Linked DNA regions of Homo sapiens: all the other regions are linked to region 1. Evidence: fine-mapped expression QTL. A gene starts in region 1. Each other region holds a variant in brackets. All regions are shown on one strand. Distances are from middle to middle.

Region 1 (6,387 bases):
GGCACTCCTATCTACTTTAAATGAGCCTTCTAAATTTAATAATCCCATTAAAAAATGGGCAAAAGATATGAATAGACATTTCTCAAAAGAAGACATACAAATGGCAAACAGGTATATGAAAAGGTGCTCAACATCATTGATCATCAGGGAAATGTAAATCAAAATTACAATGAGATATCATCTCATCCTAGTTAAAAAGGCTTTTATCCAAAAGACAGGCAGTAACAATGCTGGCAAGGATGTAGAGAAAAGGGAACTCTCATACACTCTTGGTGGGAATGTAAATTAGCACAACCACTATGGAGAAAAGTTTGGAAGTTCCTCAAAAAACTAAAACTAAAAATGGAACTACTATATAATCCATCAATCCCACCCACTGCCAGGCATGAATCCAAAAAAAAGAAATCAGTATACCGAACAGATATCTGCACTCCCATGTTCATTCAGCACTATCCACAAGAGCCAAGATTTGGAAACAACCTAAGTGTTCATAAACAGATGAATGGATAAAGAAAATACGGGGCCAGGCGCGGTGGCTCACGCCTGTAATCCCAGCACTTTGGGAGGCCAAGGCGGGCAGATCACGAGATCAGGAGATCAAGACCATCCCAGCCAACATGGTGAAACCCCGGCTCTACTAAAAACACAAAAATCAGCCAGATGTGGTGGTGTGCGCCTGTAATCCTAGCTACTCGGGAGGCTAAGGCAGGAGAATCACTTGAACTGGGGAGTCGGGGGTTGCAGTGAGCCGGGATCGTGCCACTGCACTCCAGCCTGGCAACAGAGAGAGACTCCATCTCAAAAAAAATAATAATAATAATAATAAAAGAAAATATGGTACATGTACACAATGTAGTATTATTCAGCCACAAAAAAGAATGAGATCCTGTGTGCAACAACATGGATGAAACTAAAGGCCATTATGCTAAGTTAAACAAGCTAGGCACAGAAAGACAAATTTCACATGTTCTCACTTATTTGTGGTAGCTAAAAATTAAAACAACTGAACTCATGAAGAGAGTAGAATGATGGTTACCACTGGCTGGGAAAGGCAGTTGGAGGAGATAGGAGTAGGGATGGTTAATGGGTACAAAAATACACTTAGAAAAAGATCTAGTATTTGATAGATAGGATGACTATAGTCAACAATAATTTATTTTATGTTTTAAAATAACTAAAAAAGTATAACTGGATTGTTCGTAACACAAAGATAAATGCTTGAGGTGATGGATACCACATTTACTCTGATGTGATTATTATGCATTGTATGCCTGTATCAAAGTACCTCATGTATCCCATAAATATATACACCTACTATGTACCCACAAAATTAGAAAAAAAAAAAACTTTAGCTGGGTGCTGTGGCTCACCCTTGCAATTCCAGCACTTTTGGAGGCTGAAGCAGGAGGACTGCCTGAGCCCAGGAGGTCAAGGCTGTAGTGGGCTATTTTTGCACACTGCACTCCAGCCTGGGTGACAGAACAAGACCCTGTCTATTTAAAATAATAATAATAATTTTTAAAAAATGGACCTGAGAAGACTGAATAGTTGTCTAATAATCTGATATAGTCAAATAAGAATACCCTAAAAGTACCAGCAAAGTTGTAGAACTAGCCTGACTCAAAATAGTCATATTCCTTACAAGTTTTGAGTACTTAATAATTTTTAGATAGTTTTACAAAATAACCATGACAATTACAACTCAATTTCACCCCAAGTTTCCACATGAAAAGAAAGTCAGAAGTTTAGAAGTGTACCTTGGCAATACTGTGAAGAATGAACCAGAGACAAGCAATGTTCTTACCTTACCTAACTGCTGGTGAATGGCAAAGTGGCAGCACTGGCACACTGCCCAATATTTATGTAACGGAGTACTTTCAGTTTGTTTTCCCAAGTAGTGCATCTTCAGATCTGCCTTCCAGACAAACTAAAAGCAGAAGCTTGAATGAATACTGTATTGAAATGTTTTCTCATACTGACTGTGATAAAGCATATATGCTTTATAGCAGTCCTATAGGACTACTATCCTTACCCACTCTAGGAAGATCTGAGAACAAGAAAAGCGATTACTAGAAAGCAAAGTTATTTCCATGAAGAACACTTCAGAATAAATCAATGGAAACCAGAGCACATGATGTTTTCACAATTACCTGGTCGCTTTTCCTTTGGGTTCTCCAATGGAATGGGTTTCTTAGACACAGCATCTTTCACAGCTTGCCTTAGTTTCCTCTGTTCTTTTCGGTACTTCTTGAGAGTGCTTTGTTGTTTAAACTGCTTATTTTTTAGCTTGTTTTCAAGTTTGACTTTACTAGTTTTTATTAACTTGCGAAAGCTTGGGATCTGTTTTTTATTTCTTCTCTAGAAAATAACAGAAAGAATACTGCATACCCAGAAACTTATTTTTTAAATCAGGTTAAAGAGAACTGATTACAAATTTCATTAGACCAATTCCACAATTTCAATGTCCCACAGCCACAGACTTGCATATAAAAGCTAAAACCAAACGATGGCTTTAATCCTACAGAAGAGCGCTACAGCATCAGTTATTCAATCCCAATTCACAGCAATTCAAAGGGTTCTACGATCCCCAAACAGGTTAAGAACCACTGATCTAGTAGTGGTAAGTGGCTATTCAAGGCTAGTTTAACACACCTGTAGTTTAACACATTCAAAGCAAAATGCTGGCTGTCTTTAATAAAACTTACATTTATCTACGATTTTATTACTTACAAAGTGCTCCAACAAATCACCTCTAACAGCCTAGTTGAGTACTGACTGCTGTTATCCTCACATTACTGATGAAGCTGCCAAAAGACCCATAAACTAAGGAGGGCAAAACTGAATTCGGATCTTTGGATTCCACTTCTCTTGCTGGTGACTCATTCAGAAATCCCAAAGTTAGTCCTGAACCCCAGGACTACCTCTTATTTTCTGGGAGAACCAGGACAAATCACTTGCTTTTCTATCTCTTTACCCTTCATGGGTACCGTGACTCACATTATAAACTCGCTGAGGGTAGGACCCTGCTTCTCATTTGTGAAAAACGAGTTCGAAAGACGGTCTTGAAAAATTCCTTCAAAGTATGAAATCCCACGCATGCAAAACTCCGTGCCTGTCTCTTCGTGATACTCTGAAGTGGTGCGCGCACACAGTGGGTAACCAAGGATGAGCTCGGTGTAAGGAATGGAAAGCCCCCAGTCTAAACCACCGCCCCCTAGACACGGGTGAAAACCTGCCTAAAAGCTAACTCAGGCAGTGACTCTATCACCCGAAGGGGCCCTAGGCCGCGGCGACCGGGCTTTTGAGGACACTTACCGCCTTCATCCTTAGGCCTTAAATGAATGCCGGCCAGACAAGTTCACCAGAAGCAGGGTTACTACAGAAATCCCGGGGAATGACACACGTGCCGAAGTCCCTACACTACCAGAGCCGGAAACGGCCTTCAGTCCCTCCCAATCCTCCGCCGCCGGAAGTGAGGGCGGGACTTCCGTAGACAGGTTCGGGCTCGCGCCCTCTCGCGGTGACTGTCTCGCGGCCCTGGACCGGTTGCCCCCCGGCGTGCGCGCGCGGACTGGCACGAGGGAAGCCCCGAGGGCGTCGGTGCCAAAGGCGGGAAGCCGGGCGGGAGGGGCGCATTTTGCAAGGTTATCTGAGTATGATTCTTTGACTCTCGCCCTATTTATTTCTTTTAAAACCTTGGGGAAATCGGGCTCCTCCTCTCAGAATGAGAGGACTTGGTTTTTTCGGTCACCTCATTGCATTTTGTGCCTCTCCTCACGTTGCTTATCTCATGCTGTTATAGATACTGATTTTCGTAGTCTTTTTCCTCCATACAGTCCTGAGGGCAGAAAGAAGCTTATTTTTTGTGTGTAATGCCTGCCCCTCGACGGACATTCTGGCCGTGTTTGTAGCATGGCGAATGATTTCTCATCAGCCTTGGTCACTTAAAAGTCTGTGATTCTTAGTGTTTTATTTTGCATTTTTTTTTTGCTTTAATTTTTAACCATTAGCTGATAAAGAACTGTATCCATGGCTGGGTGCGGTGGTTCACGCTTGTAATCCCAGCACTTAGGGAGGCAGAGGCGGGTGGATCACCTGAGTTCCAGGAGTTCGAGACCAGCCTGGCCAACATGGTGAAACCCTGTCTCTACTAAAAATACAAAAATCAGCCAGACATGGTGGCGTGCGCCTGTAATCCTAGCTACTCGGGAGGCTGAGGCAGGAGAATCGCTTGAACCCAGGAGGCAGAGGTTGCAGTGAGTCGAGATCACACCACTGCACTCCAGCCTGGGTGACAGAGCAAGACTGTCTAAAAAATAAAAATAAAAATAAAAAACTGTATCTGCATTTCAGTATCTTACAACTTTGGGTAAATTCTGTCTGCTTAGTAATTTCACCAAAGTCGTTTTTTGTTTTTGTTTTTTGAGACGGAGTCTTGCTCTGGCGCCCAGGCTGGAGTGCAGTGGCGCAATCTGGGCTCATTGCAAGCTCTGCCTTCTGGGTTCACGCCATTCTCCTGCCTCAGCCTCCCGAGTAACTGGAACTACAGGCGCCCGCCACCACGCCCAGCTAATTTTTTTTGTATTTTTAGTAGAGACGGGGTTTCACCGTGTTAGCCAGGATGGTCTCGATCTCCTGACCTCGTGATTCGCCCACCTTGGCCTCCCAAAGTGCTGGGATAACAGGCATGAGCCACCGCGCCCCGCCTAAAGTCGTTCATTTTTACAGGAAGTTTTATGGATTGCAAGAATAAGAGTATCAAAGTGCTTGTCTCTCAAAGACTTTTTTTTCTCAATAAATTTAAGCATTCCACTTCAAGTTTTTTGTGGGTTTTTTTGAGTCTATGATTTTTGAGCATGGCCCTGACACAGAGTCTGGCCTCGCAGTCCTGAGCAGGTGGGAAAACCCAGTAGTGCGGCTCAAAGGGTTCTGAGCCCCTTGAATAGTGTTGCTCTTAGAGAGACTGAGGGAAAAAAGTACCAATTTCCTGATCCCACCACAAAGACCAAGAGGTCCATCTGGCACTCTTCTTTCAACCTCCCTTCCAACTTCTTCCTTGCTCTGTCTCCTTCCACACAGTGTCAGAAACAGCAGAGCCTGTCCCGCTGGAGTATTACTTCATCAAACAAGTGGAAAACATCAGCCTGTGCTCTTCCCAAGTGCCTGAATTCCCTCCCAAGCATATCAACATATCTACAGTCACTCCCATCCTTTTAGCCTTCCTTCCAGTCTCTCCAAGGATGAGGCATCCCCATTCCAGTTCAAAACCAACTCCTCCCAGCTTCATCAGATTCTTGTATCATTAATTATCCCTTCTTTCCTGTGTTCTTTCCCTCTCTAATAGATCCTTCCCCTCAGCTTATAAACATATTCAAATCTCTTCCATTTTTAAGATTTGTTCTAATAAACTTATCTCCCTTTAATTGCTCTTTTATGTGCCTCTTTTCCTACTTGTCCCTACTTCCAGAAAAAAGTATTCTTTTAGCGTCTCCACTTTCTCTTCTCTATTGTCATAGCCCAATCCTGTGCTAGTATTTTCTTTTTTAATATAAAGATTGCCTTTTTTTATTTTTTTTCTCTGTTGCCCAGGCTGGAGTGCAGTGGCAGCTCTCAGCTCACTGCAGCCTCAACCTCCCAGGCTCAAGGGATCCTCCACCTCAGCTTCCTGGGTAGCTGAAACTACAGGCACGCACCACCATGCCCGGCTAATTTATATTATTTGCAGAGATTTGGTCTTGCTATACTGCCTAGGCTGGTCTCAAACTCCTGGGCTCAAGCAGTCCTCCCACCTCAACCTCCCAAAGTGCTGGGATTACAGGCATGAGCCACCATGCCCAGCATGTGCTAGCTTTTTTAAGAACTGTGTCATACTCTTGGCCCATTTTAAGTTTACAATCAACTAAAATCTCTGGATCATTTTAAAGCAATTGTTGCCAAGCTAAATCTCTCCCATCTTGAATTCGAGCAGCCTGTTGTTCGAAAATACTCAAAAATGGAAGTTTATATGATTCCTTTTAATTCCATTTAATCTTGCTGGTTTCTTAATTCTGTGTGTCCACCTTTGTGTCATCTCTTCTTCACTCAATCCACTGCCAAGCCCCATTTGGACTCCAGATCCTCTTAGATCCCTTAGAGCTTTCCTGGACACTTGAGCTGATAAGGGTCACTGGGCTTTCCCAAACTAGTATCACAGGGATTGTACCTGGAGATTCCTGTTAGCACTTTCAGGAAGTCTGTTAAGAACTTACGTGGCTTTGCCCATAACATTCCGCTGAAACTGATCTAATTAAGGTCACCAAGAACCTCCAAAGTGTTGTGAGTTTTTTCTAATTGTGTACGGAATTACATTACTTCTTTCTCATTTAACCTCACTAGATCTCTCTGCTG
Region 2 (6,387 bases), 66 kb before region 1:
CTGGCTCTAGCAGAGGAAAAGAAAGGAAAAGCAGGAAGTCCATTTTTGGCAACAATCCGGGCAGAATGAGCCCAGGGGAGACAGCATCATTTAACAAAACATCTGGAAAAAGTAAAGTCACTTTCTTACAATATCTTTGCTTGATTCTGCATGCTGGATGATTTAGATATTTTACTGTCTAAGCACTTCCCTTGAATTTTTTAATTCTTTTTCCTGAACATTAATATTGTCTGAGTATAGTATAAATTTTTGTAATTGCTAACTTACACTTTTAACGTACTAAAAACAGCATTTCAGGCTGGGCACAGTGGCTCATGCCTGTAATCCCAGCACTTTTGGAGGCCAAGGCAGGTGGATCACTTGAGGTCAGGAGTTCGAGACCAGTCTGGCTAACATGATGAAACGCCATCTCTATTAAAAATACAAAAAGTAGCCGGGTGTGGTAGTGCACACCTGTAATCCCAGCTACTAGGGAGGCTGAGGCAAGAGAATCGCTTAAGCCCGGAAGGCAGAGGTTGTGGTGAGCTGAGATCGCACCACTGTACCCCAGCCTGGGTGACAGAGCAAGATTCTGTCTCAAAAAAATATTAAAAAATTAAAAAATAAAAATAACATTTCACTGAAGATGTTTGAACAGTGTTTGCCTCACGAGTAAAAATTAGAGGCACCTTGGAACATTCTTGGAACATTCTAGTGGTTTCTTGGAGCTGTTCTCTTCACCATTATAACTCCAGAAGATATGGCTATTTTATTTCTAGTTACTTTTTATTATGAAAGTAATAAATTCTTGTAGTTAAAAACTCAAACAATACAGAGTATTATTAAAATTCCTTTCCACTCAATGTCCTGGTGCTATTCTCCAGAAGTAACCACTATTAAATTTATTGTGTTTTGTTCAAGAAAAATAAGATCCTTTTTAAGATAATCCAAATGGGATACAGGCATACTTCGGAGATATTGCAGGTTCGGTTCCAGACCACTACAATAAAGTGAATATCACGATAAAATGAGTCACATTAATTTTTTCGTTTCCCAGTACATATAAAAGTTATGTCTACACTATACCATAGTCTATTAAGTGTGCAATAGCATTATGTCAAAAAAATGTACATACCTTCAATAGAAAATACTTTATTGATACAAAATGCTAACAATCATCTGAGCCTGTAGCAAGTTGTAATATTTTTGCTGGTGGAGGGTGTTGCCTCAACGTTGATGGCTGCTGATTCATCAGGGGGGTGGTTGCTGAAGGCTAGGGTGTCTGGCAGTTTCTTACAAGAAGGCAACAGTGAAGTCTGCCACATCAACCAACTCTTCCTTGTACAAAAGATTTCTCTGTATCATGCAATGCTGTTTGATAGCATTTTACTCATGATAGAACTTTTTTTTTTTTTTTTTTTTTTTTGAGACGGAGTCTTGCTCTGTCACCCAGGCTGGAGTGCGGTGGCAAGATCTTGTCTCACTGCAAGCTCCACCTCCCGGGTTCACGCCATTCTCCTGCCTCAGCCTCCTGAGTAGCTGGGACTACAGGAGCCCACCACCACGCCCGGCTACTTTTTTTGTATTTTTAGTAGAGATGGGGTTTTACCATGTTAGCCAGGGTGGTCTCGATCTCCTCACCTCATGATCTGCCTACCTCAGCCTTCCAAAGTGCTGGGATTACAGGTGTGAGCCACCGCGCCCGGCCATGGTAGAACTTTCAAAATTGGGGTCAGACCTCTCAAACCCCACTGCTGCTTTATCAACTAAATGTATGAAATATTCTAAATCCTTTGTTGTCATTTCAACAATGTTCACAGGATCTTCGCCAAGAGTAGATTCCATCTCAAGAAACCACTTTCTTTGCTCATCCATTAAGAAGCAACTCCTCATCCATTCAAGTTTTATCACGAAATTGCAGGAATTCAGTCACATCTGCAGGCTATACTTCTAGTTCTCTTGCTGTTTCCACCATATCTGCAGTTACTCCCTCCACTGAGGTTTTAAACCCCTCCAAGTCATCCATGAAGTTTGGAATTAACTTCTCCCAAACTTCTGTTAATGTTGCTCTTTTGACCTCCTCCCATGAATCATGAATGCTCTTAAGGGCGTCTAGAATGGTGAATTCTTTCTAGGAGGTTTTCATTTTATTTTCACCAGATCCATCAGAGGAATCACAACCTATGGAAGCTTTAGCCTTATGAAATTTATTTCTTAAATAAGACTTAAAAGTTCAAATTACTCCTTGTTCATGGGCTGCAGACTGGATACTGTGTTAGCAGACATGAAAAATCATGCTGTAAACAGATGTGCTGTCATCTAGGTTTTGTTGTTCCATCTATAGAATACAGGCAGAGTAGATTTAGCATGATTCTTAAGGGCCCTAAGGATTTTCAGAATGGTCCATGAGCATTGGCTTCAACTTCAAGTCGCCAGCTGCATTAGCCCCTAACAAGAGAGACAGCCTTTTCTTTGAAGCCAGGCATTGACTTATCTTCTCTAGCTATGAAAGTCCTAGGTGGCATCTTCTTCCAATAGAAGGCTGTTTCATTTACAATAAAAAGTTGTTGTTTGGCCGGGTGTGGTGGCTCATGCCTGTAATCCCAGCACTTTGGGAGGCTGAGGCAGGTGGATCACAAGGTCAGGAGATCGAGACCATCCTGGCTAACACGGTGAAACCCCATCTCTACTAAAAATACAAAAAAAAAATTAGTTGGGCATGGTGGCGGGTGCCTGTAGTCCCAGCTACTCAGGAGGCTGAGGCAGGAGAATGGCGTGAACCCGGGAGGCGGAGCTTGCAGTGAGCCAAGATCGCACCACTGCACTCCAACTTGGGCGACAGAGCAAGACTCCATCTCAAAAAAAAAAAAAAAAAAAATTCTGTTGTTTAATGTAGCCACCTTCATCAATGATCTTAGCTAGAACTTACGAATAACTTACTGTAGCTTCTCCATCAGTACTTGCTGATATTATGTTATGGAGATGACTTCTTTCCTTAAACCTCATGAACCAACCTCTGCTAGCCTCCAACTTTTCTTCTGCAGCTTCCTCACTTCTCTCAACCTTCATAAAACAGAAGAGAGTTCAGGGCCTTACTCTCAATTAGGCTTTGGCTTAAAATATGTTGTGGCTGGTTTAATCTTCTATCCAGACCACTAACACTTTCCCCATATCAGTAATAAGGCTGTTTGGCTTCCTTATCATTTGTGTGTTCACTGGAGTAGCACTTTTAATTTCCTTCAAGAACTTTTCCTTTGCATTCATAACTTAGCTAAATGTTTATCGCAAAATGCCTAACTTTCAACCTGTCTTGGCCTTTGACATGCCTTCCTCACTAAGCTTAATTATTTCTAGCTTTTTATTT[C/A]TTTCTTTCTTTTTTTTTTTGAGGCAGAGTCTCACCCTGTTGCCCAGGCTGGAGTGCAGTGGCGCGATCTCAGCTCACTGCAACCTCCACCTCCCGGGTTCAAGCGATTCTCCTGCCTCAGCCTCCTGAGTAGCTGCGATGACAGGCGCGTGTGCCTGGCTAATTTTTGTATTTTTAGTAGAGACAGGGTTTCACCATGTTAGCCAGGCTGGTCTCGAACTCTTGACCTCTGGTGATCCACCCGCCTCAGCCTCCCAAAGTGCTGGGATTGCAGGCATGAGCCACCGTGACCAGCCTAGCTTTTGATTTCAAGTGAGAAACGTGTGACTCTCCCTTTCACTTGAACATTTAGAGGCCAATGTAGGGTTATTAATTGGCCTCATGTCAGTATCGTTGTGTCTCAGGGAATCGTGAGGCACAAGGAGAGGGAGGGAGATGGGTGAAGGGCTGGTGGGTAGAGCAGTCAGAGCACGCACATTTGTCAATTAAGTTTACCATCTTATGGGTATGGTCCATGGCACCCCAAAACAATTACAATAAAACATCGAAGATCACTCGTCACAGATCACCATAACAGATATAATAATAATGTTTAAAAGCTTGAAATGTTGCAAGAATTACTAAAATGTGACACAGAGACACAAAGTGAATACATGCTGTTGGAAAAATTGTACCAATAAACTTGCTGGAGGCAGGCCTGCCCCAAACTTTAAATTTGTAAAAAAAAAAAAAAAAAAAAAAAAAAAAAAAAAAAAAGTGCAGTATCTGCAAAGTGCAATAAAACAAAGCACAATAAAACAAGGTATGCCTGTATAACCAAACATACATGTATAACTTTATATTTGCTATAACTTTTCACATAATTTTCTGTACATATAGCTTCCTTATTCTCTTTAATGCTTGTGTGGTGGTCCACTGCATGGATATACTGTCATTTATGGAATCACTTCTTCACTGATACATTTGGGTTGCTTCTTGGTTTGGTTTGATTTTGTTGTTTCCTATGAAAAACAATGCTGGAGTGAATATCCTTGTACATATATTGTTTATTTGTGCAAATATACCACAACCCAAATGAAGTACTGAGGCAAAGGACTTCTAGGCTTTTAATTTAAATTGATGTTGCTACATTCATTTTGTTTTGTTTCTTGTGTGGGGTTTTTTGTTTGGTTTTATTTTATTTTTTTACTTTTTGTAGAGATGGGCTCTCACCATGTTGCCCAGGCTGGTCTTGAACTTCTGGGCTCAAGCAATCCTCCCACCCTGACCTCCCAAAGTGCTGGGATTATAGGAATGAGCCACCACACCCAGCCACCACACTCATTTTAAAACTAAGTAGCCACCATGTTGTTTTAAAGTGGCGAACTAACTCACAAGTAAAATCCAAGAGGTATTCTGATGTGGTTTATATGCTATGACTGTTTACTGGGATGTTGTTCAGGTTTATCTTTCTAAAATATTTAAAGTTTTCTACACTAATCTGCGGCTAATTTCTTGGGGGGTTTAGGTTCCTGTGAAGGCATTCGACAGACCTGGGAGGAATCTTCTTCCCCTCTCAACCCAACCACGTCCCTCAGTGCTATCATTAGAACTCCCAAATGTTATCATATCTCGTCGCTGAATGAAAATGCCGCCAAACGTCTGTGTCGCAGGTATTCTCAGAAACTGACCCAGCACACCGCCTGTCAGCTGCTGAGAACTTACCCTGCTGCCACCCGCATCGACTCTTCCAACCCGAACCCCCTCATGTTCTGGCTCCATGGGATACAGCTTGTGGCACTCAACTACCAGACTGATGGTAAGGGGCCTGCATGCTCACCTCGCTCCTTTGCATCTTACATTTCAGTAAATGCAGTTTGACAGCATTTTTTCAAAGGGGCAAGATTCCAGACTGGGGCACACCATATGTGAGAGTAAAAATATGATGATGGAAAACAGAAGTGAATTTGATACTGAATTGTGCCTCCGATGTTTCAGATTAAGGTGATAGAAAAGAATCTTGAAGGGGCCTGTAAGGTCTCCTGGTCCTGCCCCTTTTTTAATGCAGTTTTTCAAATACCAAGCTGCTCTTGACAAAGCCATGCCCGGTTTATGTTTAAAGCTCTTTTTGGAGCAGGGATTTCCTAACACTGCCCAGTTAACCTGTCTCACTACGCAGTTGTTCTTGCAGTCAAAAGGTAGTGTCACTCCAACCACTTTGCAAGTTAAAACCATGTTAGCGTCTTATCCTTTTGGAATTGAGATGGAGAATAATGGTCAGTGCCCGAAGAGTAGCTAGCAAAAGGAAAACAACTATGTGAAGTACATGAACAGAGTAAGTAGTGATCATGTTTCTCCAATGTCAATGAGACTCTGATATGACGCCTAAAACTCCAGAGTAGAAGCTGCCGTTTATTGCACGCTTACTGTGCATTAGGCAGTACGCTGAATTTTTGACCCCCTATTATCTTATTTAATATTCACAACAGCCCTAAAGTTGTGTACCTTTATGATCGCCATTTCTCAGATGAGCAAATCAAGGCACAAATTGGTTAATTTGTTCAAGGTTGCAGGATGACTTGTAGTAATAAATTCAAGGAGTCTGGAAGTTTAAAGGATAAAGCATTATGTTTCCACTTGGTTATGGGGGAGGAGAGGAGCTACAGAAGGTAAGAGTAGATAAATGTTTCCTAAAAGCTCTTTCATAAACCACAGTTTTTCCTTTGAACAGTCAAGCGGCAGGCAGCTGTTATCATTCATCTCGCGTGAACTGAATCCAATCTCATCTAACCATGCTGAACCACAAACCACAGTATGGCCTTGTCTCCAGCTGAGGTCAAACCACAGCTTTAGCTCTGGGACCAGCTAGCTACCTGGCACTGGTGCCAACAACACCCATTGGTGGATGCCCCAAAGACATATGATTAGAGATATTGGTCACATTTCTGCCCTTGTTATATGTGCTTCTTTCAGTTAAAATTAAATAAGATGATGCCGGTGAAGTACCATATTTAGCATAGTGCCTGGCACATAGAAAGCATTCTACAAAGGTTAACTATCATTGA
Region 3 (6,387 bases), 890 kb after region 1:
GAACATGGCCACAAGGGGGAGCTCTTGGGCCCTCAAGAGGCCACCCACCTTAGAGCAAATGCAAACACATGCCCCCAAGCAAAGCCAGCCCCTGGCTTCACCGAGCACTAATTCATTCTCATTCTGCTGCTCATTGCCCATGGCCTTCATCACTGAAGTTCCTCAGCCACTACCAAGGTATTGTTTCTGGGCTCAAAGCAAATAAATGGCCAAGGGACAGACCAACAGGCTCCCACAGCAGTCAGGCTCACCCCAACCTTAGCATCCTCTTGCACATGTGACAGGACACAGTTGGCCAGGCCTGGAGTTTCTTAAATACAGACCCAGATGGGAAAATGTGGTCAGCACTCTCTTCCTCTCTCTCTCTCTCTCTCCCTCTATCTCTTTTTAAAGAATTTCAGCATTTTAAAAGCCCATGCCCTCCAAAGCAGGCTCCAGAGTGTGTTCACCTGTGCTTCCACAATGACTGACTCTCACATCTGACCTTGAACAAGAGCCTCTGACTGCAGATGGAGCTGATTACCTTTTTCTTCAGACTCCAGGATTTCCTGCAAAACCAAGAAAGACGTGGACTGTTTCGGGGGCTCATTCAACTCCTGTTTCTCCTGAAGCATCTTGTAAACTTCAGATTCTTTGTCGATGACAAGGCTGCTTGGAGGCTGAGCATGGTCTAAGCTGTAAAGAATGTTTGAAAAATTGATTAGGACATGACAGAAGTTAAAAATAACTTCACCAGGAACCTCCTCCAGGCAGACACTGCTGATTTGAAGGATGGATAGAAATGATCTCAAAGCCCTCTCCTAAATCAGCCACAGACCTGCTGCCAGCACAGTGAAACTGAGATGTCTTTGTAGTCAGAGCTGGCTGCTGCTTCAATGCAATCAGAGGCTCTTCTTCTAAATAGCTTCAGTAGCTCAATTACTTTTTGGCCTAATCCAGTGGAATGAGAATGCTCTATCTCTTTATAAATTCCATCAGCAGCATTATGTCCAGAGAAAATTTAGAGAAAAAAAAATGTCAACCACAAGCCAACCATGAAGAACTCAGCCGGGTCCCCCTTGTATGGGCCACAAACATTGCTTGCACAAGCAGGAATCATAGTGTTATTCATTCCCGACGATCTCACAGTGCTTTCCCTGTCTATAAATACTTCCTGATTCTCAAGGCCAGGCACTTGGGTCTCCTCACCTATAACACAGAGGTAACAGTACTTTCCTTGCCTGGTTCACAGTTTGGTGGTAAGGATGGGACACGCAAGTGCTTTGTGAACTGTTGATGTTCAGGCCCAGGGACTGGGCAAGCCAGGCCTTGTCTTCCCCACCTTCCTCCTGTCATGCTGGGTGACCCAGAACAAGATAAGACAGGCAGAGCCTGCCTCTTTCCCTGAGGGCTCCACTTTCTAAGCAGTGGACGGTGACAGGGAGGTAGTCTCTCATCAGCTATACCTGTAAATCTATCCTCCATCTGACCCCTTCTCACCTCCCCACCTCCCCCAGGTCCAAGCCATGCCATGCTTAGGCCAAAGTGATGGCCTCTATTCAAAATATCAGAGTGATATTTTTTGTTTTTTAGAGACAGGGACTCACTCTGTCACCCAGGCTGGAGTACAGTGGTGCAATCACAGGTAACTGTAACCTCGAACTACTGGCCTCAATAGATAAATCCTCCTGCCTCGGCCTCCTGAGTGGCTAGGACTACAGGTGTGCCACCATCCCCCGCTGATTTTGTCATTATTTTGTAGAGACAGAGTCTTGCTGTGTTGCCCAGGCTGGTCTCAAAGTCCCAGCCTCAAGTGATCCTCCAGCCTCGGACTCCCAAAGCGCTAGGATTATAGGCATGGGCCAGAGTGCCTGGCCTAGAATGATATTTTAAACATGAATCAGACTGTGTCATGCTGTGGCTCAATGTATTCTCATTTGACTTAGCACAAAATATTTAGTTTTAATACTAAAATATATGTTTAATCAAATTCAACTTTTTTGGAGTAAATGTTATCACAGAGGAGAAAGTCCCTCACATATGTGACCCAAACTTCTCCCTCCACACACATCCCCTGCCAGCCCTGGCCCACTCTGCTCTACTGAGACCAGGCTTCCCGCTGTGCCTGGGAAACACTAGCTTCACAGCCTATGCACTTACTGCACCCTCAGCCTGCAATGCCCTTCCCAGGTGTTGTCATGGCTCCCATGCTTCATCCAGGTCTCTGCTCAAGTGCACTCCTCAGAGAGGCCTTCCTGACCCCGACTCCAAACAGTCCGCCACATCCCCACTATCACTCTTAACTCCCTACCTGCTCTCTCACCATGGATTCCAGTGTATTCCCTTATTTCTTTGTTGTCTATCTCCCCCTGGAAAGTAAGCCCCAGGAGGGCAGGAGCATGGCCTGTCTTGCTCCCCATCACATTCCCAGGCCCGGCTCAGTGCCTGGCACAGGTCACAGTTCAGCAGGCAGCAGGCATCAGGCAAGTGAACGAACACTGCAGAATGGGTCCAGGGCCTCCTTCCTCCTTGCTGTGCTCCCCCTGTTCCTGCAGGCTCACGAGGTCCTCCAGGGCAGCCAGCCTCTGAGGGTTGTGCCAGGGACATGGGCAGCCCCACCTCCTGGCCCCAGATCACCACCTTCCTCTCAGCTGAGCTGCTAAGGAGAAAGGCCAGTGTGCCCAGTGGAACCAAAGAGCAAATATCAGATGGTGGGGCAATTTATTGATGCAGATGGATAGATTTGTATATAAACAAGTTGTGCTTCCTGAGTAATAAAGCTATAAAGTCTCCAGCCCACCA[G/A]GCTGCCTCCCAGCTTTACAGATGCAGGCAGTGGCCAGGAGTGGTTTTATTCAGCAACTCTAAACAGACTCTCTTTAGGGCTGGAGCCACTTTCACAGGTGCAAATGAATTATATCAGTTACGCTTACTCATTTCCAGGGTATATGTTTTCCCTGGGTAATTCTCCGCAAGTTCCCTTTTCCTCTCCCTCTCTTCCTCTCCTTTCTTCCTTTCTCTTTTCTGAGACAACCTCTGGGGCACGTTCAGTACTCAGGTCCCCAGCTAAAGGCAGAGTCAATCATAGCAATCAAGGTCCAGGTGTTTCCCTTCCACTCCAACCATGTTCTCACAATAAAGGAAAAGGCACCCAAAGAGTGGCATATGCTTCATGGCTACCAAAGAAGGTCAGAGTTTAAGTAGCAAGATTCATGGGTTGGTCACTCCGGCCGGCTGCATTTGGGGAAGGGAAAGCAGCTATCCCTGCCTGTCCTGCCCACTCCTGCTTGGCCTCTTCCCCCACCTGCAGGGAACTGTGGGTGCCTCTCAGGGCAGGCAATGGGGCCACCTGGGGGAGTTGTTTTAACCAAGGGTCTTTCTTTGTCTCACTTTCCAGCCCTTTCTTTGAGTTATATGCCTGACTCTTTGAGTCCTGAGTTTGGAACTTGCCCCATAATAAGCATATTACATTATTTTTGGATAAATCTTTTTTCTATTACACTTAGGACTATTTTAAAATTGAGATCAGACTATGGAATGTTCTTGGGAAAGATTTTTCTTCTTCTTTGGTGTATGTTATGTCTGGAAGCCACCAATGGAACACACCAAAAAAATGACAGAACCCAGACCACAAGGCCATCACATATTCTTCCAGCAAATCACCTTGTGAGGGATTTCTATAATTTAAAAAAAAAAAAAAACTTACCATTTTTCTCAAATAATGATAGTATCTTTAAACCACTGGACAATTTATAAAGGACTCTCAATATCTATTACCTTACTTAAGGTATTGATACACCTGACTCAAAAATAACATCCTAAGATCCAACGTCTAAGTCTTAGACACTAGATTACAAGGTATTGACATGATACCACAATATCTTAAAAAATGATGACAAAAATATGAAGGAGAAATGGAGCAAAAAATTTCTCGTTTTTATATTAAAAACAGCAATGAAAGAATATTACAGTGATATGGCTTCAGAAAATATAATACACACCACTCAGTCTCCAGGAGAAAAAGTTTTGACGGCGTAACAGTGAAAATGAACACTTTCTTCTGAACCCACTCTATACAGTTTTAATAACGAGTTTAAGCAAATTCAACTACTTTGGAGTAACAATACGTTACACAAAGTTTCCTAGTTCTTGTTTCTCCCTGGGAGCTGATGTGTATCTGTTTCCTAAATGTTTAATATTTTCTCCCACTATTTTAGGACGTGACCTGAGGGCCCCAGGGTTATTCTAGCCAAGCCACTCCCATCCCTGCCAAATAAGATGGCTGACACAGCCAGGCGTAGGAGGATCCTAGTGGTCTTTAGAACATAAGCAGAAACTCCCCTTGAGCCCACCTCCCAGAGGAGGATTTTGGAGGCTGAGCCTGCAGACCTTATGTGTTTCTCACACCTGCTCCAGCCAAAAGGGCAGCTGGGGTGAGGGTCAGAAGGACGAGGAGGATGGAAAGCAGTACGCCCATGGCTCTGGAGCATGGGTCAGCACAGCAACCCTGGGATGAAAGTCTACTCCATCAGAACCATGAAGTGCCCAGAGTGAGGATATAAGGGGCTTTTTTTTTTTTTTAACTTGGGCCATCATCTGTGGCAGCAACTTAATTATCTGTATATAAATCTCAGCTAGGCCAGGTGCGGTGGCTCACACCTTTAGGAGGCCGAAGCAGGTGAATTGCCTGAGCTCAGGAGTTCGAGACCAGCCTAGGCAACACGGTGAAACTCCTATCTCTACTAAAATCCAAAAAAAATTAGCCAGGTGCTGCAGCGTGTGCCTGTAATCCCAGCTACTTGGAAGGCTGAGGCAGTAGAATCGCTTGAACCTAGGAGGCAGAAGTTGCTAAAACAAGACAGCCATAAGAAAAAAATCCTCATTGCTGATACAACCTTAGTAGGGTCATTTTCTCACACAGTAAGAACATTTTGATACTTTAATAAAACTACCTGTATGTGAGATAAAAATTGGAATAGAAACGGGGATTACGTGAATTATTGAAAGCATCCAGACAGGAGAAGATGGTCTCCTCATAAAAATATTTTTCCTGTCTGAGAAGATGAGGTAGACATATTTTTCCCTGTTTCACCCAGTAAAACCAAAAACCCTGGACATTACATATAAAACAACATGAGAAGACTCTGACAGGGCAACGGAAGCCACACTGGCTAGGGACCCCACGTCCTGAGGACCACGATGGTGAGCTCCCAGGGTGTTCTTGTTTCCTTGGACATCCCAGACATGGAGCGGAGGGCAGCAACCTGGAAAGGGCAATGGGCACAGACAGAAGAAGTCTCAAGAGGAGCCTGCTGTATCTGACCAAATAACCAGAAAGGGGCAGCCCAGCAAAACACAACACATTGAAACAACACTATTCTCCAGCCAAATGCCAGAAAAGGCCAAGTGGGGGGTCCAGACTTCTAGTCTCACCAGGCTATGATGTGGTTCCCCAACTATCTCACTGGGGTAGATTCAGAGAAAGCCCAATAGAGAGTCCATATTTCATCCTTACCCAGCTGTAATGAAGAAAACCTAGGAGAGAATCAGGACTCTCACCACTGCTCAGCAGTGTCTAGGCCACCACTCACCCATAAGGTGTCAGTGGAAGCCATATGGGGAGCCAGAACTCCCACCCCATCCAGCAGTAATGAGTGGCCCCAATGACCTCAGGTGTGACATAGGCAGAGTGGGGAAAGTGGACTTTCTACCCCCACCTGTCAGTAATGAGGCAGCATCCCCAATCCCATATCTGAGAGGAAGCCAGTGAATACAGAAGGTTTTAATGCGATCCAGAATCTAATAACATAGTAACAAGAATGTTCAAGATTCAGTTGAAAAATCACATCTCTCAGAAGAACCAGGAAGATCTCAAACTGTAAATAAGACAATAAAGAGATGCCAACACCAAGATGACAGAGATGTTGGGATTATCTAACAAAGATGGTAACACAGTCATCATAAAAATGTTTCAATGAACAATTATGAGCACATTTAAAACAAATAAAGTCTCAACAAACAGAAGATATAAAGAATGAAATGGAAATTCTAGAACTGACAAAATAACTGAAATAAAACCACAGTGGATACACTCAGCAGCAGCATGAAGGAGACAAAGGAAAGAATCAGTGAACTGGAAGGTGAATATTAGAAATTATACAATTTCAAGATCATAGAAAAATAGAATGGGGAGAAAAAAAAGAAATGAAGAGCCTCACAAACCTATGGGAATATATAAAAGATCAAAAATTCATGTCAATGGAGTCTTGGAAGAAGAGAAAAAAGGTGGAACTAGAAAAGTACTAGAAGAAATCATGTCTGAAGGTGTCCTAAATTTGGCAAAAGACATAAAGAAGTGAAGTGAACAGGAAACAGGATAAACCTAAAAAAATCCACACCAAAACATATCAT
Region 4 (6,387 bases), 140 kb before region 1:
CCTTTTCCCCTCTGTGTCTCTCCTAAGCAAAGAGTCATCAGTGGAACCATGCCAAGCACAGCAAGGAGTTCAAGAGACTCTTCTGCACCCACTTCATGTCAAGGAGGATGCCTGGGTGTGGGAAACATGCTGGCTGCTGTATCCTCAGAACTGAGATCCTGGCATGAATGAACCATGGCCCGTGCTTTAAGGAGCTTATGATTAGAAGAACTTGGTCTAGGACAACATTTTATACATACATACATACATACACACACACATACACACACACACACATACACACACACACATACATATATGTAGCCAAGCACAGTGGCATGCACCTGTAGTACCAGCTACTTGGGAGGCTGAGGCAGGAGTTTGTGGCCATCCTGGGCAACATAGAGAGACTCCATTTCTAAAAAGAAATAAAAGCTTAAAAACTAAACATTTTATATATATATATATATATATATATATATATATATATATATATGATTGGGCTATTGTAATAGAAACATGCTCTTTTATTCCTAGCAATGAGCCAGGGAAGCCTTGAGAGAAGAGGTAACATTTGAGTTATCCTTCTCTTAAGAGAAGACTGTACTCGGGGCACAAACCCTTCTCAGGGCAGTCACAGATTCTTCTTGGTCCAGCCTGTTAGTTAGGAAGTGGGATTTAGAGATTCCAGTCTTCAGGATTTCTGTGTTCTGTCACCTGAAATTCAGCATCTCTACAACAGTACTTGCAGCAGCAGAGCAGTCACAGTAGTGAACATCTATCCCTTAACTGCACACTAAGCATCATGCTGAGATCTTTAGATACACTCTCCAACTTCACCCTCACAACAATTTTAGGAGGTAAACAGTATGCCCATTTTACTGAAAAGGGAATTAGGGCTCAGAGCAGTTAGATGGCTTGCCTCAGGGGCACGCACAGGAAACGGTGGGGCTGGGAGTGCACACAGGTCTACCTACCTCCAGCGCCGGGCTCCGCCACTACACCGTGCTGCCTCCCTCCAGCTTCCCCTTGTTCCAAATGGGTTACAGTCTCAATCTCAGGTACAGTTAACTGGTGAGGCCAGAGAGGTGATTTACAATTTTGCGCTGGTACTACAGAAATGACGCCTGATCTGACTCAAGGCCCTGGGGTGCAGAAAAAGGTCACTAAGCCCCTGGGTGAGTTCTCAAACTCCAGCGCATATAAGAATCACCAGGGAGTTTATCTGAAAATGCAAATTATTGATCTCTGGCCTTAAGAGAGCCTGATTTCTCAGTCTGAGGCCTTGGAATCTACATTTGAACAAACACCTAAACACCACCCCCAGTGCTTCTGATGTCAGTGCTCCACATTTGAGAAGCACTGCCTCTGCAAGGGTGTGTGTGTGTGTATGTGCCTGTGCATGCACACATGTGCATGTTGTGTGTGTGTACATGCCCACATGTGCTAGTCAAGATGTTTCAGTAAAGCTCCATGGAGGATAGGTATGGATGTGCACTACACATAAACTACTTGAAAGTAGCTTTGTCATAGCCGGGTTCAGTGGCTCACGCCTGGAATCCCAGCACTTTGGGAGGCCGAGGTGGGTGGATCACCTGAGGTCAGGAGTTTGAGACCAGCCTGACCAACATGGAGAAACCCCATCTTTCTAAAAATACAAAATTAGCCAGGTGTGGTGGCGCATGCCTGTAATTCCAGCTACTTGGGAGGCTGAGGCAGGAGAATCACTTGAACCCAGGAGGCGGAGATTGCAGTGAGCCAAAATCGTGCCATTGCACTCCAGCTGGGCAACAAGAGGGAAGTTCTGTCTAAAAAAAAAGAAGAAGAAGAAGAAGAAGAAGGAAAGTAGCTCTGTCTAGACTTTCATTATATTTTGTAGACTTTACCATTTGAATTCAACCTTTGCAGTTAGAATGACCAGATACCCATTACAAATGATCATCTCTTTGAAAACTTCTGCTTGGCATTTTCAAGAAACTTTTCGGCAGAAAGTCATTTGTCTCCTTTTTCTGGACCTGGGAACAGCACTGGGAAGTGTTCAGGCCTTTTCCCAAATATAATCCCTGAGCGTTTGGAAGCTGAGAATCCTCCCTGCCCACGGCCTCCTGGGACTCTGGATGGCCTGCCTGTCTGCCAGAGACACTGAGCAACTCCATGCTGGAAATGTGGGAAAGATGGTCTCTGTCCTGGAGGTCTAAGGGTCTGCTGGGGGAGACAGAACAGGCCCATGTGAAAGAGTCAGGCACACAAATATAACAAAAATAAACCAGAGGCAGATCCATGCAGTGGTGAGAATACAAGTGAAACTTTGAACTCAAGGTCCTACATTAAGTCAAAGAGAAGTAGGAAGAAATGGAATGAAAGGTGCTAGGTGAACCATGAGAAAAGCCTCCCTAGAGGAGGTAAGCTTCATTCATTCATTCATTCATTCATTCATTCATATGTTCACTCCTTCGCTGACTCTTGTTTAAACTTACCGAGGGCAGATCCTGACAGGTCACCGACACTGCTGCTTACCCGTGAGCATAGCAGATCCAGCATCTGCCTTAATGAGGATCACAGCACTAAATGTGCGCTAGGGTCAGGGTGATGTGGGGGCACCACAGAGCATGCAGTGTGTGGACACACTCCAGGTGGGAAGTCAAGGAAGTTCTGCTCAAGAAAATGATGTTTTTATCAGACTCCTGAAGGCAGCCTCACCCTTTCCTTTAGGGGGCCAGGGCGTGAGTACAAGGGAGGCCCCAGCATGTTGGCCTTCCCACCTTCTCTTCCCATCCTGGCTTGTGTGCCAGAGTATGTATACCTCAGGCCTCAAGTTCAAACCCTGTCCACACATCACCCCCACCCCCACTGCCCTCTGGCCTGGCTTTAGGCCTAGGGGTTACAATCTACCCTCTGAAGGACTGATCCAGATAAACAGCCCTTGCAGACCAGCAGTGGGCTTGGTGCTGTTTGGACAGGGAATTTGGGAAGCGTGGGTTTACAAGGGATAAATTATCTAGAAGTGAGTGTGCAGCCTATGGACAGGCACGTCCCCTCCACCCCATAGACTTCTTACTCTATGGAGAGGGCACAGCTGGA[C/T]GACAGCCAGTGTGGAGCCTTCTGAAACCTGGGGTCCAGGGCAGGATCCTGATGGCATGGTCTCAGGGCAGTGCTGCCTAAAGGATGAGTAGGGTTCAATGAATAAAATGCCAGGCCGTGTGTGGTGGATCAACTGTAATGCCAATGCTATGGAAGCGGAAGCGGGAGGATCACTTGAGGCCAGAAGTTCAAGATCAGCCTGGGCAACATAGTGATACTCCATCTCTACAAAAAAAAAAAAAAAAAAATTGAATCTGGGGTGATGGGGAAGCCTTCCTGCAGAAGGAACAACCAGTTCAAGATTCCTGAGATGTTAAAAAGCCTACTTTACCTCCCTAAAAGGAGGGATATAGGGGAGAGGTGAGGTGATTGGAGAATGGACAGGGGCCTGGTGGGCCAAAGTAAAGATTTGGCTTTGCAGAGGACACAAGCAAGACATGGTGGACCAGGGAAAGGTCATTTTGAATGATGCAAGAAAATTCCTTCCAAAATGAGCATGTGTGACACCAATAAGGTATTTGATGTGAGGAGAGGGAGTAAACTGTTCTATTTGGCTAAGCCCAAGAGTACTGAGAAAAGCAAAAGGAAGGAAAAAAAGATATTTTGGGAGGGGCAGTTGTGGAGGAGTTGTGGGCATGGTCCAGGGGGTTATGATGTCAGGGTAAGCCCAGAACCTTCTGGGAGAGGTGCTTAAAGAATTGGGCTGGGGGCCAGATTCTCTCCTCATTCTGTGCTTACTATTGAAATAAGCAAAATAATCTGCTACCATTAACACCTTTCTGCTCTAGTAGCACTCCCTATGCCTAAACCATAGTACTTTATATTTATATGATTTTTTTGTTTTTCTGTGTGATTGCACAGAAATTCTTTCTGGATTGGCAACACATCCCATTTTCCACTTAGTAAATGTGACCACCTTTTATGCTTTGGTCAACATTTTGACATTTGTCACTGAATCTTCATTTCCTTTTTGTGTCATTTATTATTTTATAACTAGCGGTGGCCCTCTCACCATTTAATGCTTATAAAATTATGAATACATCAGACCATAATAAGAATTGTCCGTGAGGCTTGTAAACAGATGTTGGGGTGTGTGTGCGTGTGTGTGTGTGTGTGTGGTGTGTCTGTGTGTGTGTTTATGATAACAGTGCTTACATAATCTCAACAACCAGGGCCCTGGGGACTCACACTCGGCAATGGAACAGTTGGTTTAAATTAGGTTTCCATGTGAAATATGGTATCGCTGTTTTTTTCCTAGCATTGTGGGAAAGTATATGGAAAATGATTTGACTGATAGGAAATAAATCTGGATGAGTGATCAGGATTGTGACACAAACCAAGTGGTGGTCTCCACCTGCCCTGTGAAGCAGACCTCTCCAGGGGGAGGTGAGTTAACCCTTTCCAGCCACTGGACTAGTAAGTCAATGCATGGTATCAGAACAGCCTGAAAGAATGACAACTTTCCAGAGACCCTGATTTGCCATCAATTTCAACTAGAAAGGAGCTAAAGCCATAGAGACAATATAGCCAGAGGCCTCAACAACTAATGAGTTGGGTGGCTTTGAGAAACTGTTTTTTTACTTTTCAGGATCTCATTTTTATTTGTGAGAAGTGTTTGAATTTCCAACTCAAAGAGTCAGTAGGGTTATGATGCTAAGTGTTTGCTGATGGTTTCCCATTTTAGGATAGGGCTCATCAAAAGCCAGTCAGACTAAAGGAAGAATTAGATGGATGCACCAATGACTCAGTCTCTGTTAGCAAAATAATTTCTTGCTCTAGTGAGCCAGGGTTTCACAAAGGTGACTTTTAACCAAGGAATCAAGTGAGAGGACAGGCATGGAGACTGTGAGCAAGGGGTTACTCATAGCTGCAGGAGACGGGTCAGCACTAGGAATCCCAGACAGTTCCTGGGATGATGTGGACCAGGGTTTGTCCCAAGGGTCTGATTCCAGACCTGTTCTCCTGATGCCACCTGAGGGCCCAGTGAAGTCCAGTACAGATGGAGGGCAGAGGCACATGCTGGGAGCCCACTAGGCTCAGGACTGAGCTTGAGGGTGGCAGGTAGCCCAGCACGTTTTGCTTCAGTCTGTTTCAGAAGGGAAGAGGAAGATTATTAATTACTCCAGTGCCTCTGGCTCATACCAGAGAATAGACCTGTTTTATCACTAAAACTCCCTGTTGCTCTGATTTTCCTGTTTGTTTCTATGTAGGGATAGGAAAGAGGTGTGAGCAACCATTCATTTTGTTTTTTTCATCTCTTTAGTCATATTTTGGACTCTTCTCAGTATTTTCTCCTTTTATTCCTGCTCTGCCTTCACATATGCAGCTCAAAACTGAGTGCTTAGGAGGACCTACCCAGAGCCAAGTCTGAAAAAACTCACCTTTCGGCTGGGTGCGGTGGCTCACGCCCGTAATCCCAGCACTTTGGGAGGCCGAGGTGGGTGGATCACTTGAGGTCAGGAGTTCAAGACCAGCCTGGCCAACATGGTGAAACCCATCTCTACTAAAAATACAAAAATTAGCCGGGCGAGGTGGCAGGCCTTGTAATCCCAGTTACTCGAGGTTGCAGTGAGCCAAGATCATACCATTGCACTCCAGCCTGGGCAACGAAGCAAGATTCTGTCTAAAAAAGGAAGAAAGAAAGAAAGAAACTGTCAACTTTCACCAGATGAAAGAGCACTGGGCTGGGAGTCCTACTTTTGACATCAACAAGAATTGTGACCTTGAAAAGTCACTTCTCCCATGAGCCATAGATTCTCGATCTGGAAAAATGGGGTTGCACTGCCCTCTGTGGTTGCTGCCAGCACTCAATGCCATTAATTCTTATCATTTTATCCACTTACAGGCAGTATGCCATTGACCTTGAGCTCTTATTTCCTGCAGTTGTCATGGGTCACCATAAACTCTGTGTTCCGGCCTCTCTAACTTAGTCCAGAGAAAAGTGTTGCTGTCCAGGCTTCAGCACTGATGCTGAACCAAGCGGAGCTTGTAGGGCCATGTGAGGTCAAGACCAAGACTTTGGTCTGTTGACAACCAAGCTTATCAACCCAGATGCTAGTCAGGATAGAGAAGGTAACTTAGGTGGACACCAGCATCTAAGCACCAAAGTAAAGGTGGCAGCAAAATAATCATAGAGCAGAAGCAGATGATTTAGAGGCTGCATATCATAAGGGGAGGGTGTAGACATGGATTATTTTTAAATATTGTCCTCCAGTCTGTGTAGCAGGAAAAACGAATCACATTAGAATAACTTTAAGCCCAGAACTGAAGAACATTAGAGTTTGTGTAAACACATCAGGCATTTTGTGAGTGGTTGATAATGCAACC
Region 5 (6,387 bases), 440 kb before region 1:
AGGGAAAAAACCCCTGAAACACAGAAACAAATATTTACATAAAGACATTCCCTTTTATAATTTATAATAATAAAAATACAAATAACTATTCCATTTGAGTATATTAGGTTTAAAAAAGCTACCTTCATAGATTAGAATATTATGCATCTTTTCACAAGTATCTTTATAAAGACAGAAGTAAAGGGAAATCCAAAGGAATAGAAATCGTTCTATCATAAAGACATGCACACATATGTTCATTGCAGCACTATTCACAGCAAAGACATGGAATCAGCCTAAATGCCCATCAATAGTGGACTGTGTCAGGAAAATGTGCTACATATACACCATGGAATACTATACAGCTATAAAAAAACAAGATCATGTCCTTTGCAGGAACATGAATGGAGCTTGAGCTCGTTATCCTTAGCAAACTAACACAGGAAGAGAAAACCAAATACCACACGTTCTCACTTATAAGTGGGAGCTAAATGTTGAGAACACATGGACACATAGAGGAGGAACAGTGGACACTGGAGCCTTCCAGAGGGTAGAGGGTAGGAGAAGGGAAAGGATCAGGAAAAATAACTAATGGGTACTAGGCTTAACACCTGTGTGATGAAATAATCTGTACAACAAACTCCCAAGACACAGGTTTACCTATATAACAAATCTGCACATGTACCCCTGAACTTAAAAGTTTTTTGTTTTTGTTTTTGTTTTGTTTTGTTTTGTTTTGTGATGGAGTCTCGCTCTGTCACCCAGGCTGGAGTGCAGTGGCACCATCTCAGCTCACTGCAACCTCTGCCCCCCGGGTTCAAGCGATTCTCCTGCCTCATTCTCCCGAGTAGCTGGGATTACAAGTGCCCACCATGATGTCCGGCTAATTTTTTTGTATTTTTGGTAGAGACGGGGTTTCACCATGTTGGCCAAGCTGGTCTTGAACTCATGACCTCAGGTGATCTGCCCACCTCAGCCTCCCAAAGGGCTGGGATTACAGGTGTGAGCCACCACACCCGGCCCCAAATACAAGTTCTTTTTACAAAGCTTACCAAATGGAGCCACAAAAAAAGAAGTAAAGAGAAATCGTCATGTTATGATATTAAGTGGAAAAAGCAGGAGAATAAATATATAAATAATATAAAGTATATATCTACATATATATAATACATGTCCTCACCTCTAAGATGACTAAATGATCTCTGAGGTCCCAAGCATGATTTTATAAAGTGAAGAGAGCAGTTAGATATCTTATCAGTGTATTGTCATCACATGTTATCAATGTCTGGAATCTATAAAATGATGCCAGTGACACTTGGTACTAGTATGAGGTCAGATTCCCTAGGAGAGCCCCAGACAGAGGTTGAGGTGTGTGTGATTTACTGGGCATATGCTCTTCAGGAAAAGCTCATGAGGAAAACAGACCAGGGAGGGGGAAAGAGGCAAGCAAGGATGCACTTTTTTAAATTTATGTATGTATTGAGACGGGGTCTCACTTTGTCACCCAGGCTGGAGTGCAGTAGCACAATCTCAGCTCACTGCAACCTCTGCCTTCAGGGCTCAAGCAATCCTCCCACCTCAGCCTCCTAAGTAGCTGCCACCACACCAGGCTACTTTTTAAATTTTTTGTAGAGATGGGGTTTTGCCATGTTGCCCAGGTCAGTCTCGAATTCCTGAGCTCAGGTGATCCACCCTCATGGGCCTCCCAAAGTGCTGGGATTACAGGCTTGAGCCACTGCACCTGGCAGAGGATGTGCTTTCAGGAGCATAAATCACACCACTGCATTGTAGGTGGGTCTTATACCCAGAGCAATTCTTGGGGATGGGGAATCTGTGAGCCATTAACAGCCAGGTTCAGTGGCCTTAATTTCTAAATTTTGTTCTCCTGGGTAAAATAAGGTGCCTGAATTAAATCAATGAAGGATCCTTCACGTGGGCCTGGGAATCTCCAGGAATTATATTTAAAATTCAGCTTTCCATGCAGTTTTCTGGGATTCAGGTGCATAACTTTTGTCAGATTCTTTGAGGACAGGGTGACTTCAAGCTTCCTTCCACCCCAGCACTTTGAATAGGAGTGTGAGAAGAGACTTAGGTCAGAGGAGGAAGCTAAGCACTGAATTCTTAGTTCTAGTTTTAGAAACATAATCGACCAGAACAGGGATTCTTTGGTCTCACCTTATCCCAACCCCCATTCAAATTTAGGAAAATTAAAGGCAGTCTCCCAGAACCCACTCAGACCCACTCGCTTTCACAGCCACATCTTTTCAGCTCCGCCACCTCCCGGTGAGGGGGGTGTTATCCTCGTTTTACAGAGGGGAAACTGAGGTGCCAGTGATGTGACTCATTCAGAATCCCACAGCACCCCCTTGTGGTGTGGAGCTATGGTCAAGACTTGCTGTGGAAACCAGTGGCTTGCGTTTCTTGATTTTTTTTTCTTTTTTTGAGACAGGTTCTCACTCTGTCACCCAGGCTGGAGTGGAGGGGCTTGATCTCAGCTCACTGCAGTGTCAACTTCCCAAGCTCAGGTGATCCTCCCATCTCGGCTTCCCGAGTAGTTAGGACCACAGGAGCATGACACCAGCCCAGCTAATTTTTGTATTTTTTGTAGAGATAGGGTCTCACCATGTTGGCCAGGTTGGTCTCGAACTCCTGGGCTCAAGC[G/T]ATCCATCTGCCTCATCTTCCCAAAATGCTGGAATTACAGGCGTGAGCCACCATGCCTGGAGAAATATTTTTGTTTTAAAAAATACTGTATTTATCTTTCAAAGGTGATACTTTAAAAATTCAACAAGCGAGAAAGTAAAGAAAAGGGAATCCTTCTACACTGTTGGTGGAAACGTAAATTGGTGTAGCCACAGTGGAAAACAGTTTGGAAGTTTCTTGAAAAATTAAAAATATAATATGATTAAAAAATCCCACTTCTGGGCATATATCCAAAGGAATCAAAATCAGTATACTGAAGAGATATCTTCACTCCTGTGTTCACTGCGGCATTATTCACAATAGCCAAGACGTGCAAGCAACCTAAATTTCCAAAGGACAAATGGATAAAGAAAATGTGGTGTATATATACATACAGTGGAATATTATTTAGACTTAAAAGAGAAAGAATCTTGCCATTTGCGACAACATGAATGAACCTGGAGCACATTATGCTAAGTGAAATAAGCCTAACACAGAAGGACAAATACTACATGATACCAATTATATGAGGTATCAGGTATAGTCAAACTCGTAGAATCAGAAAGTAGAATGGTGGTTGCCAGGGCCATATGGCAAAGGAAGATGGGGAACTATTGGTCAAAGGGCACAAAAAATTTCAGTTATGCAACATGAATAGGTCCTAGACATCTGTACAACATAGTGCCTAGAGTTAATAATATTGCATTTTATACTTAAAAATTTGCTAAGATGGTAGATCAATGTCAAGTGTTCTTAACACAAATTATAATGAGGGTGGGAGGAAACTTTTGGAGGTAATTGATATGTTTATGGCATAGATTGTGGAAATGGTTTCATGGATGTATACTTATCTCCAAACTCATCAAGCTGTATGCATTAAATATGTACAGATTTAAAATAAATAAGTAAAGTTGCAGCAACAGTCAGAGAAGATTTTCCAAGGACTGCAATCACATTGCTCTCAGAACATATTTTCAAAGCAAGAATCTGTATAGGACATTGACATCTGGATTTCTGATGCATTTCTTGTATCTTAAATCAGGGATTGCATCATTAATAAACTTCCATATAGTTAAAAAATTAGCAACACAGAAATGTAAAATATAAATGGAAGGCTCAATTCCCCTGACCTTTAAGTAGTAGAGTGGATTCTTCTTTTATTTTTCTCCTCTTTTTTTTCCCATTTTTTTAGAGACGAGCTCTCCTTCTGTAGTCCAGAGTGGACTGCAGTAGTATGAACTTACTGCAGCGTTGAACTCCTGGGCTCAAGCTATCCTCCTGCCTCAGCATCCTAAGTACCTGGGACTACACATGTACACCACCATGCCTAGCTGGATTCTCTTTTCGATAGATACATATAGATTTGTTTGTTTAATTGATTGATTAATTTTTACAAAATGGAATCATATGGTACATTCTGTCCCGAAACTTCTGTCCCACTAGACAGTATATCACGAAAATTTTTCATGTCAGAAGATAAAGACATACCTCATTCATTTGAAAACAATAGTAAAAACAACATGTATATATATTTCAGACCATCAATATGTTAATTTAAACGGCCAGATTAAATCATATTGGTAAACAATGTGGAGTGAAACTTCTGCCATCTTAGAGCAATTATTCGAACTTCCTGTAAACTGATTATGAAGGTTGTAGTTCTAAACTATTCAAAAAATTCAGGAACTTTTCAGGACCACTCACAACAAATTGTTAAAATAAGCATGCTCTCACAGCCCCGGGGGCTGCCCTGCAGGAAATGTTGGATAATGTTCAGGTCCATCTGCTTTGTGCAGGTGCTCATGACATCGTAATGACAAACTGTACAATAGCAAGAGAACATACAAGCTGCTTTGCCATGATTATATTATATTATATATAATTTTAGCTCTTATAATTTTGGTGTCCTGCCTGTCTGACCCCTTATACTTATAAGAGAGTTTTTATAAAGTTTGAGTGCTTATGGTTTACCTTTTATTTTTACTTTTTTTTTTTTTTTTTTTTTTTGAGACAGAGTCTTGCTCTGTCGCCCAGGCTGGAGTGCGGTAGCACAATCTCAGCTCACTGCAAGCTCCGCCTCCCGGGTTGATGCCATTCTCCTGCCTCAGCCTCCCGAGTAGCTGGAACTAGAGGCGCCCGCCACCACGCCCGGCTAATTTTTTGTATTTTTAGTAGAGATGGGGTTTCACGGTGTTAGCCAGGATGGTCTTGATCTCCTGACCTTGTGATCCGCCCACCTCAGCCTCCCAAAGTGCTGGGATTACAGGCGTGAGCCACCATGCCCAGCCTTTTTTTTACAGATAGGGTCTCTCTCTGTCTTTCAGGCTAGAGTGCAGTGGTACAATCAGAGCTCACTTTAACCTCAAACTTCTGGGCTCATGTGATCCTCCTGCCTCAGGCTCCAGAGTAGCTAGGACCAAGACACACATCACCACACCTGTCTAATTTTTAATTTTTTTGCAGAGACAGGTCTATTTTGCTTAATCTGGTCTTGAACTCCTGACCTCAAATGATTCTCCCATCTCGACCTCCCAAAGTGTTGGGATTACAGCTATGAGTAACCATGCCTGGCCTAGCTTTTAATTTTATAAATGTTACTGTATTTCAGTAGAAGTAAAATAAGTAAGCTAAGAACTAGAAGCCAAATGGTGTATTGATAGACAGCTAGACAGGCATAGATATAGATGTATAATTACCTAACAAATCCTACTAAAATCAGAAAATCTAAATAGCTTCAAATTGAGTTAACTGAGCTTAATATGGCAATGCAGAAACATAATTGTACCAACCTTACAATGCAGATAAAATTCCAGGGGTGAAATTTTAAATATAACATTATTTTACTTAACCTGTAAAACAAATGAAAAGTGATGGTTTTGAAACTTTAAGTAAATGCTTGACTGTGATAGCACCAAGTATCTGATTTATTTTTATTTTTTTTCTTTTGAGACAGAGTCTCACTCTGTTTTGCAGACTGGAGTGCAATGGCGAAGTCACAGCTAGCACCACAGCCTCAAACTCTGGGTCAAGTGATCCTCCTGCCTCAGCCTCCTGAGTAGTTGGGACTATAGGTGCATACACCACCATGCCCCCCAGCTAATGAATATTTTCTTTTTCTTTTTTTTGAGACGGAGTCCCCCTGCATCACCCAGGCTCTTCTTCTGTCGCCCAGGCTGGAGTGCAGTGGTGTGATCTCGGCTCACTGCAAACTCTGCCTCCCAGGTTCAAGCAATTCTCCTGCCTCAGCCTCCCAGGTAGCTGGGATTACAGGCATGTGCCACCACGCCCAGCTACTTTTTGTATTTTTAGTAGATATAGGGTTTCATCATGTTGGCCAGGCTGGTCTTGAACTTCTGACCTTAAATGATCCACCTTCCTTGGCCTCCCAAAATATTGGGATTACAGGCGTGAGCCACCACGCCAGGCCAATGAATATTTTCAAATTGGATTTATTGAACACCTCATAATGTTTCAGTACACATGTAAAAAGTGCATTATACTGGAAAAAACAGTCTGGCATGGTGGTTAACAGTTTCAGTTCTGGAGTCAGACCATGCTGGGTTTGAATTCTAGCTCTATCTATCTCTAACTAGCTAGGTGACTCTTGGGCAGATAATATCACCTTTCTGAGCTTCAGTCTCCTCATCTGTGAAATGGCTTTACTAGTCTCCATTTTACAGGAACATTGCAAGAATTAAATGAGATCATGGAGTTAAAGAGCTTAGCACA

Alleles and levels. Alleles are on the strand shown, and positions count from the first base shown. SD is a standard deviation of normalised expression in the study named. Not every link is listed here.
With allele T in place of C in region 4, the expression in uterus of the gene that starts at base 3,425 in region 1 is higher (moderate effect, 0.43 SD a copy in GTEx).

What was found. PIP is the estimated chance that this variant, and not a neighbour inherited with it, causes the effect.
Region 2: its variant is fine-mapped to the expression of NOC3L in whole blood (TOPMed, PIP 0.98).
Region 3: its variant is fine-mapped to the expression of NOC3L in whole blood (INTERVAL, PIP above 0.99).
Region 4: its variant is fine-mapped to the expression of NOC3L in uterus (GTEx, PIP 0.96).
Region 5: its variant is fine-mapped to the expression of NOC3L in spleen (GTEx, PIP 0.95).

What each region holds. Positions count from the first base shown.
Region 1 is chr10:94,359,515-94,365,901 of GRCh38, forward strand. NOC3L (NOC3 like DNA replication regulator) reads right to left here and starts at 3,425. Exons shown (of 21, transcript NM_022451.11): 1 at 3,316-3,425; 2 at 2,151-2,358. The coding sequence starts at 3,324. RefSeq lists an enhancer at 3,099-3,358 and a silencer at 3,499-3,628.
Region 2 is chr10:94,293,529-94,299,915 of GRCh38, forward strand. PLCE1 (phospholipase C epsilon 1) reads left to right here. Exons shown (of 33, transcript NM_016341.4): 23 at 1-111; 24 at 4,851-5,141. Among named protein-coding and RNA genes, the nearest start is that of PLCE1-AS1, 9.7 kb to the left of the region's middle. The variant C/A (reference allele first, on the strand shown) is at 3,344.
Region 3 is chr10:95,246,692-95,253,078 of GRCh38, forward strand. PDLIM1 (PDZ and LIM domain 1) reads right to left here. Exons shown (of 7, transcript NM_020992.4): 5 at 524-675. Among named protein-coding and RNA genes, the nearest start is that of PDLIM1, 41 kb to the right of the region's middle. The variant G/A (reference allele first, on the strand shown) is at 2,782.
Region 4 is chr10:94,219,945-94,226,331 of GRCh38, forward strand. The region is part of intron 4 of PLCE1 (phospholipase C epsilon 1); the gene reads left to right. Among named protein-coding and RNA genes, the nearest start is that of PLCE1-AS1, 64 kb to the right of the region's middle. The variant C/T (reference allele first, on the strand shown) is at 3,061.
Region 5 is chr10:93,919,196-93,925,582 of GRCh38, forward strand. No RefSeq gene overlaps it. Among named protein-coding and RNA genes, the nearest start is that of SLC35G1, 28 kb to the left of the region's middle. The variant G/T (reference allele first, on the strand shown) is at 2,641.